2 linked regions of the Homo sapiens genome follow. The protein of the gene in region 1 interacts with the protein of each later gene in a biochemical or structural test. Each region holds a gene or a part of one and is shown in the gene's direction. Other genes may lie near its edges.

Region 1 (3,160 bases):
TGCTGCCCTCAGTTCCTGCTGACCAAAGTCCTGCCGGATCTGGCGCCTACGAGGACGTGGCGGGTGGAGCTCAGACCGGTGGGCTAGGTAAGTCAGGTAGAGCCTGGGTTGCTGGGACTTTGCTGCTTTGAGTGAACCCAGGAGTCTGGGGTTGATGGGGCATGGAGCTTAGTCCTGTGGATGTGGCTGCAGTGAACCAGGAGGACCTGGAGGCGGGGGGATGGCCTTCTTCATGTCTGCCAGCTTCCACACACCTCAGCTTCTCCATGAGACCCACGGCACCCTTCTTCTCCCAGGTTTCAACCTGCGCATTGGGAGGCCGAAGGGTCCCCGGGACCCGCCTGCTGAGTGGACCCGGGTGTAAGTCTAACGCCAGTTCCTGCCTGTTGCCTCTTGTGAGCTCGGACTGCTGATGCCCCGGTGCTGCTGAGCGCCGTGCGCAGAATGGAAACAGTGGGCCTGGATCAAAGTTAAAGTTTCTCAGGGTGGGAAATGTGGGGGCTTTGCCCCAATGACTGTAGCATTCAAGGCTTGAGGCTGGAGGAGGTAGCTAGGGTATAGTGGCTGGTGAGGCTGCACAGAGCAGATTCAAGAAAGAAGATCAGGAAGGGGCATGACCCCTGAGTTATGAAGGGGAGAAGGGACAGATGAGCTTCCGGAGACTGCTCTCCTCACCACACAGCACTAGTCCATCCTCAGCACCTGAGCCTCCCTCACTTGGACACTCAGGGGACCACACAGAGAAGTGGATGGACACTTCGCCATCCAGGCAGAACTAAGCCAGGCATAACCACAGCCAAGCAGATTAACCCCAGGCAGACCGATAAAAAGACCTCCAGATAGGCAGACAGACAGATGGACCACCAACCTGGACAGACAGCCAAAGCTTCAGAGATACAGTCCACAGGTGGACAAAGGGATCCCCAGCCAGAGAGAGAGAGACCAGCCAACAGCTTGATAGACCAGTGCAGCCAGAGAGACCACCAAACAGAGCCCCCAAAAGACAGACATCTCTGCTAGCTGGACAGCCAGGTGGACCCCCTAAGTTAGATTACTAGACAGATATAAACAGATCCCCTGCTGAACAGATACACAGAGTTCTCAGACCCCACCCCCACCCTCAGGTGGGCTGGCTGGCTGACAGACCTTCTGGCCAGACAGACTCCTAACCAACCAGATGGACTGCCAGACAGGCAGACATCAGCCACATGGAATCCTGACATCCCAGCCAGCCGGCCAGACTCTCATCTTGATGTCTTGATGGATGGACCCCAGCTAGTCAGACATGATCCTCCAGATTGACAGACAAGTCCCCCAAATGAGTACACATCTCCAGCTATTCAGACAGATGGACCCCCAGCAAATCAGGACCTATCTAGGCAGACCCCAGCCAGACCCCCGCCAGACAGACTCCCAACCAGACTGACCCCTTACTATTCACACAGCCTGCCGAGTAGCTGGGACTACAGGTCTAATTTTTTTTTTTTTTAAGAAATGAGTTTTTGCCATGTTGCCCAGACTGGTCTTGAACTCCCAACCTCAAGCAATCCTCCTGCCTCAGCCTCCCAAAGTGCTGAGATTACAGGTGTGAGCCACCAGGCTCAGCCCCCTAAGATTTGAAACACTTTAAATGGCCCATGGTAGGGTTCCTGCTAGGATAAAACATTAAGCGGCTGTTAAAAGAAATAAAAGGAGGACACGTCTCTGTGCACTGGTGTGGACAAATCTCCAAGTCACTGCAAAATGGAAAAAGTATAAGATGCTCTTTCCCTGAACCTCAAGGGTCCCGCCCCTCTCACTTTCAGGTCTCTGGACCTCTGACTGACACTGTGCCTGCCCAGGTCCCTGTATGCACTGCCACAGTGCCCTGGGCCCCATGTCCACCCCTGTCCTGCCCTTCTCTGGGATAGGGCTGGCCTTCCTCTGCCTCTGCCTGGCTGCATCCATGGTCGATCTCAAGTGCCTTGGCATGAACTCCACTCTCCTGCAGCCTTCAATCAAGGAATGATGGGGATGTGTACATACCCCACCCCACCCCTTGGCAGGGTGATGCTGAGGTGTGGATTTTTAACAGTTCCCAGACTTTCCCAGGAGGCTTGGGTTTGGGTGCCCACAGTGGGAGCTGGTGTGATATCATACCTTCGCCGGCCGCCTTTCCTTCCTGTTCTCTGTGCCCCTACTCCCACTCTAGAGCTGCCCCGTTTCTCTGTTTTCGTGAAAGAGCTGACCCTGTGCTGCCTCCCACTCTCCCAATGCCCCTGCCACTCCTGTGAGCCTGCTGCTGGTGAGGTCGGTGCTGACCTCTGTGTTGCTGGATAATGAGTCATCTATCTCTGGAGGAGAAGAAAGGCAGGTCCTCCACAGCCCTGATAAAATCTCCAAGTCTCCCAGTTTCGGGTCCCTCTCCTGGGATGCAGACCCACTGCCTGCCCAGCTGGTACGATCCACATGCCCTCTTCTTGGGAATAGGGGCATGGGAAAGTGACTAAAGATACTGTTCTGGCTGCTGTGTTCACTGTGAGTAATAAACTGTCCATTTCTCCGATTCAGAGGTCTGTTTTTCCTTTTTTTCTTCCCCAAAGATGGAGTCTTGCTCTGTCGCCCAGGCTGGAGTACAATGTCGCAATCTTGGCTCACTACAACCTCTGTCTCCGCCTCCCAGGTTCAAGCAATTCTTCTGCCTCAGCCTCTCAAGTAGCTGGGATTAAACGCGTGTACCACTATGCCCAGCTAATATTTGTATTTTTAGTAGAGATGGGGTTTCACCACGTTGGCAAGGCTGGTCTCGAACTCCTGACCTCGTGATCTACCTGCCCCTGCCTCACGAAGTGCTGGGATTACTGGCGTGAGTCACTGCTCCCGGCCTTGGTCTGGTGTTTTATACACATGTGCATGTGATGTGGAGCTGTGCAGGCCACCTTGTCAGCATGCGAGGAGGGTCCAGTCTCTGCGCCTTCTTGGTTTCTGACTTCACACCCAGTAGCCTCACTCCTGGCCCAGCATGGCAAGCACAGTTTCCACTCAGGCATTTGCCCTGGTTATTCTCTCTGCCTTGGATACTTTTCTCCTAGATTCTGCCTCTAATATATTTGAACATTTACCTCTTAATATTGTTTCCTGTCTCTCCTGATCAGAATGTAAGCTGCGTGAGGGCAGGAGT
Region 2 (3,910 bases), on another chromosome or scaffold:
GGGAGCCTTGAGGTTGGCTTTGAGGGTGGGAGGATTTGCCCAGGTAAGGAAGATCAAGGAAGGCTTGCCAGAAGGGAGGCTGGGAACAGAGCAGGTGGGAGTGGGAAAGGTGCCTCCAGGGAGAGGGAAGAGGCCTGGCTGGAGCAGAAGTCTCTGGGAGGTGATGGGAAGGACACCTAGAGAGGCAGGGCAGGGAGCCCAGCTGTAAAAATTTCTGCCAATAAGCAGGCAGGAGCCTTCTGTTAACAGAGGGTCTCTAGTCTGCTCCAGACCTAGAGGCATCATCCCATCTGATGGATGGAGAAACTGAGCTCAGGGAGGCTGAGCCAGTGCTATCAGAGGTGGTGGTGCCATTGGGAGGTGAGGTGCAGCCTGGCTCACTCTATGGCCTACAAAGTTCAAGGGGATTTTTACACTATTAATTGTCTTCAGCTGCAAGTAACAAAAAACCTGACTGGGGCGCCTTACAGATTAAAGATTAGCTCAAATCCAAGGTTTCTGGAGGTGAGGGCCTTCTGGGGGCAGTCCCATTGCTCTGCAATCCTCCCCAAAGTGTTTCCTCTTGGGTGGCTATTTCAGAGCCTGGGTGTGCCCCCTCTCTCTAAACCCTGGGCATGCATAATGGGCACTTGGGAGCTCAACTATTTCATCTGCAGCAGCTCTCATCTTATCACCCCGTCAGCTGTAAGGCAGACATCAGTGAGGGTGGTGATTTGCGGACAATCCCTGACTCACCCCATTTTGCCAGCCTGCCCTGGGCTCAGGACTTCCTGCTGCATCTTCTGCTGAGCCGGCAGGGCGTGGCGTCTCAGGGCTGGGGCTGGGGCTCTAGTCCAGGGCTCTTCCTAAGGTGGTACCACACAGTGCCCCCAGCACCTGCCCACCAAACTGGAAATTCCAGAAATATTCTCGACACCGTCTACTTTCCAAAGACTGGGTGTGGCAGATGAGGAAGCTGAGGCTCAGCGAGTTGGGGGGTCTATTAAGGTCCCTCAGCCCCTGAAAGGTGGGGTCAAAATTAAACAAAAACTGGGCCTCAGACTGGGTTTCCAAACACCCCACTCTGTGCCTTGATAATCCTGTTTCTCTCTCCATCCATTCCCATTCACTGAGCCGGAAGCCTCCATCTTCAGAAGGGGGTTCTCTGCCCCAAACAGCGTCTAATCTGGAGACTTGCGGTGGTGGCGGTGGTGGTGGTGGGGGCAGTGCCGGGGCCTCAGGCTGTTCTCCCTCATCTTGCTGCCTGCTCACCTTGCCTCTGTGTGCTCACAGCCCCCCAGAGCACAGCTGTGTCTGCTCCCAGACTATGGGCTCCTTGAGGGCAGGACCTGGTTTGGGTCCCAGAGCAGCCAGGGTTTGATGAATGACAGATGCCCTAGACCTGGGTAAGCCCCTCCAGAATGACTTGCTAGTGCGGGGTGGGGAGTCTGGCATCTCTGGGCCCAGCCTGGAAGGGTGCTGGACTGGCTGGCGGGTGACACACCTGGGGTTCCTGGGCCCCTCCTGGCCACACTGTCAGTGGGCCTCAAGCTCCCTTAGCATATGGCCTCTGGAATAAAGTGAGCCCGCACCTCGGGAGGGGGCAAGCAGAGGCAGGAGCAGGATGGCAGGTGGCAGGCGGGGCTGCACAGGGGAGCACAGCAACTCCACTTCCTGTGGGCGAGGGCCCTGTGCCTGCCCCGGGGGAGGTTGCACAAACCTTCCTGCGCAGGCCTCGGGCTGCCTGCCTGCCTGCCTGCCTGGCCCGGCCCGAGCTCCAGCCTGCCTCTTCCACTGGCCACTGCCTCCCACCCAGGGCTGGCATCCCTGCTCCCTGCCCTGGGTCCCAGACTGTGTCCTCCATCACCGCAGGGTCGGTGAGGGGCTGGGCTGGACACCAGGGCCCGCCCTCCCATCACTGAGCTCCACTCCTTCCTCATTTTGCTGCTGATTCTAGCCCCAAACAAAACAGGTTGAGCTTTTTCCTCCCCTCAGAAGCTCCTCTCTGGCTCGTGGCTGCCTTCTGAGTGTTGCAGACGGCGCCGGCCGGGAAGGGGGGCCTGGGCCAGCCCTGCCAGGACTGGGACGCTGCTGCTGGCGCCTGGCCCTCCATCAGGCCAGCCTGTGGCAGGAGAGTGAGCTTTGCCGCGGCAGACGCCTGAGGATGATGCCCCAGCTGCAGTTCAAAGATGCCTTTTGGGTGAGTGAGGATGGTTGGGGGCACTGAACAAGTGGAGGGGGCAGAGCTAGGCTGAAATCTCCATGCAGGTGATGGGATGCGGCTCCGAGAGGGGAGCTTTCTCATAAAATAGTGGTTGATTCTTGGTCTTAATTGTCATGGAGGTGGCCCAGGCCCCCACCCCTTCTGGACTGGAACGCAAGTGGACTCCGTGAATGAGCGTCCTCCTCTCTGCTGCCCCGTGTGTTTTCTCCTCTGGGAGACCTCTCCCCACAGCAGGAGCTCCTCAGAAGAGGGTAACACATGGGTGGGGGCTTGAGGAGGATGTGTGGGGCAGCAAAGGAGGGGTCACAGATTTAGAGACCAGACAAACTTGAGTTCAGGTCTTGGCTCTGTTACAGGCTGGGCAAGTCATTTCTGTCTCCAAGCCTCAGTCTCTCCATCTATATAATGGTGATAAAATAGAAATCAACACACCAACTAAAGCATTGGATCAGCAAGGGGATCCAAGGCACTAAAGCCCCCAGCACCTTGCCTCACTCCAAATGGTAATTCTGTTCCCCTCACCCAGCCCCTTGTCCCTTGCAGACCTTAGGGGTCCTTCAAGGAGGCAGCCAGGTGGGCAATGGCTTGCTTACTTTCTTAAATTCAACACGGGCTTAAATCAAGTCATTTCCCCCATGAAATAAGGGCGCCCAGCCAGTGGTAGAGGTAAAGTGGCTTGGCCCGGGCCACGTAGCCTGCAGCCCAGCTTGGACCCCTGGTCATCTCAGCACTTTTCCAGCTGTCCTTCAACTACCCCTCTGCCCCTCAGCTCTGGCTGTGCCCAGGGCTCTGGGGAAAAACTGAGACCTCTCTGGTTGGAGCTGGGGAATGTGGCTGTCCCGGGGTGCTGCCTCCAACCCCGAAGAGGACGCTCTGGCCCTCGGCTCAGCCGGCTGAGCCCCAGCCAACAGCCCTGCCCTCCCCGGGCCTTTTCCTGGGGCTGCAGCCAGGAGGATGAGAGCTATGGAGCCAGGCCTTCCTTCCCTTCCGGCCGGCTCCACTTGGGGCCTGTGGCCAGCGTGTGAGTGTTCTGCTTCCTCTGCTCTGACTGTACAGTAGGCAAAGGACCCCACGTGGGGAGGGCACCTTGTGCCTTTCTGGGCCTCAGTTTCCCCATCTCTACAAAGACAGGGTGGGCCCAGCCCAGAGAAGCCAATGGAGGCAGAGCTGCCTCAGCCCATCCGGAGGACCAGGCACCAGGATGCTCAGGGCCCAGGCTGGCAGCTGGAGCCCTGGGGGATGGGGGATGTGAGTCACCACCTAGCTGCCCTGCCTTGGTGTGCAAAGTTGGGGGAAGGGGTAGGGCCTGGAAACCCAGGCCACTCTGTAGCCCAGGGCAGGCCAGGACCCCTTGACTATTTTATCACTGAGACCTCTGTCCAGTCCTAGAGCCCCTGGGCCTGCCTTCCCTAGGGCAGAGCTGGGCAAGGAGCAGCCTCCATGGCAGGATCTGGGCACAGGTAGGGGTGGCGTATAAGGGAGCAGGGTATGGCAGCCGCAGCAGAAGCAAGCAGCCAGCCCCTGTGGAGCTTCCTGAGCGGCATCCTGCCCACACTCTGTGCTCGTCGCACCTCTGGGCTTCCTGGCCTCCAAGTGCCTTGTCTCCTCTGTGTCTGGCTCCCTGAGCCTGGGGCGGGCATATAGTTTCCCTAGGGAAGGCCAGAGCAGGAAGGGGAGAGAAGTAGCCAGTGGGAACCTCTCACACTG

What was found.
Region 2: the proteins of PTPN18 (region 1) and PSTPIP1 form a complex in vitro, tested with the Homo sapiens proteins (2 studies listed by BioGRID and IntAct).

The regions. Positions count from the first base shown.
Region 1 is NC_000002.12:130,372,861-130,376,020, forward strand, and holds the end of PTPN18 (tyrosine-protein phosphatase non-receptor type 18), read left to right. Parts: intron 1-12; coding exon 13-87; intron 88-296; coding exon 297-364; 3' UTR 365-1,805; coding exon of another isoform or gene 1,806-1,821; 3' UTR 1,822-2,545; downstream 2,546-3,160. UniProt on the Homo sapiens protein: Differentially dephosphorylate autophosphorylated tyrosine kinases which are known to be overexpressed in tumor tissues.
Region 2 is NC_000015.10:76,993,431-76,997,340, forward strand, and holds the start of PSTPIP1 (proline-serine-threonine phosphatase-interacting protein 1), read left to right. Parts: upstream 1-1,695; 5' UTR 1,696-1,974; coding exon of another isoform or gene 1,975-2,143; coding exon 2,144-2,179; intron 2,180-3,910. UniProt on the Homo sapiens protein: Involved in regulation of the actin cytoskeleton. May regulate WAS actin-bundling activity. Bridges the interaction between ABL1 and PTPN18 leading to ABL1 dephosphorylation.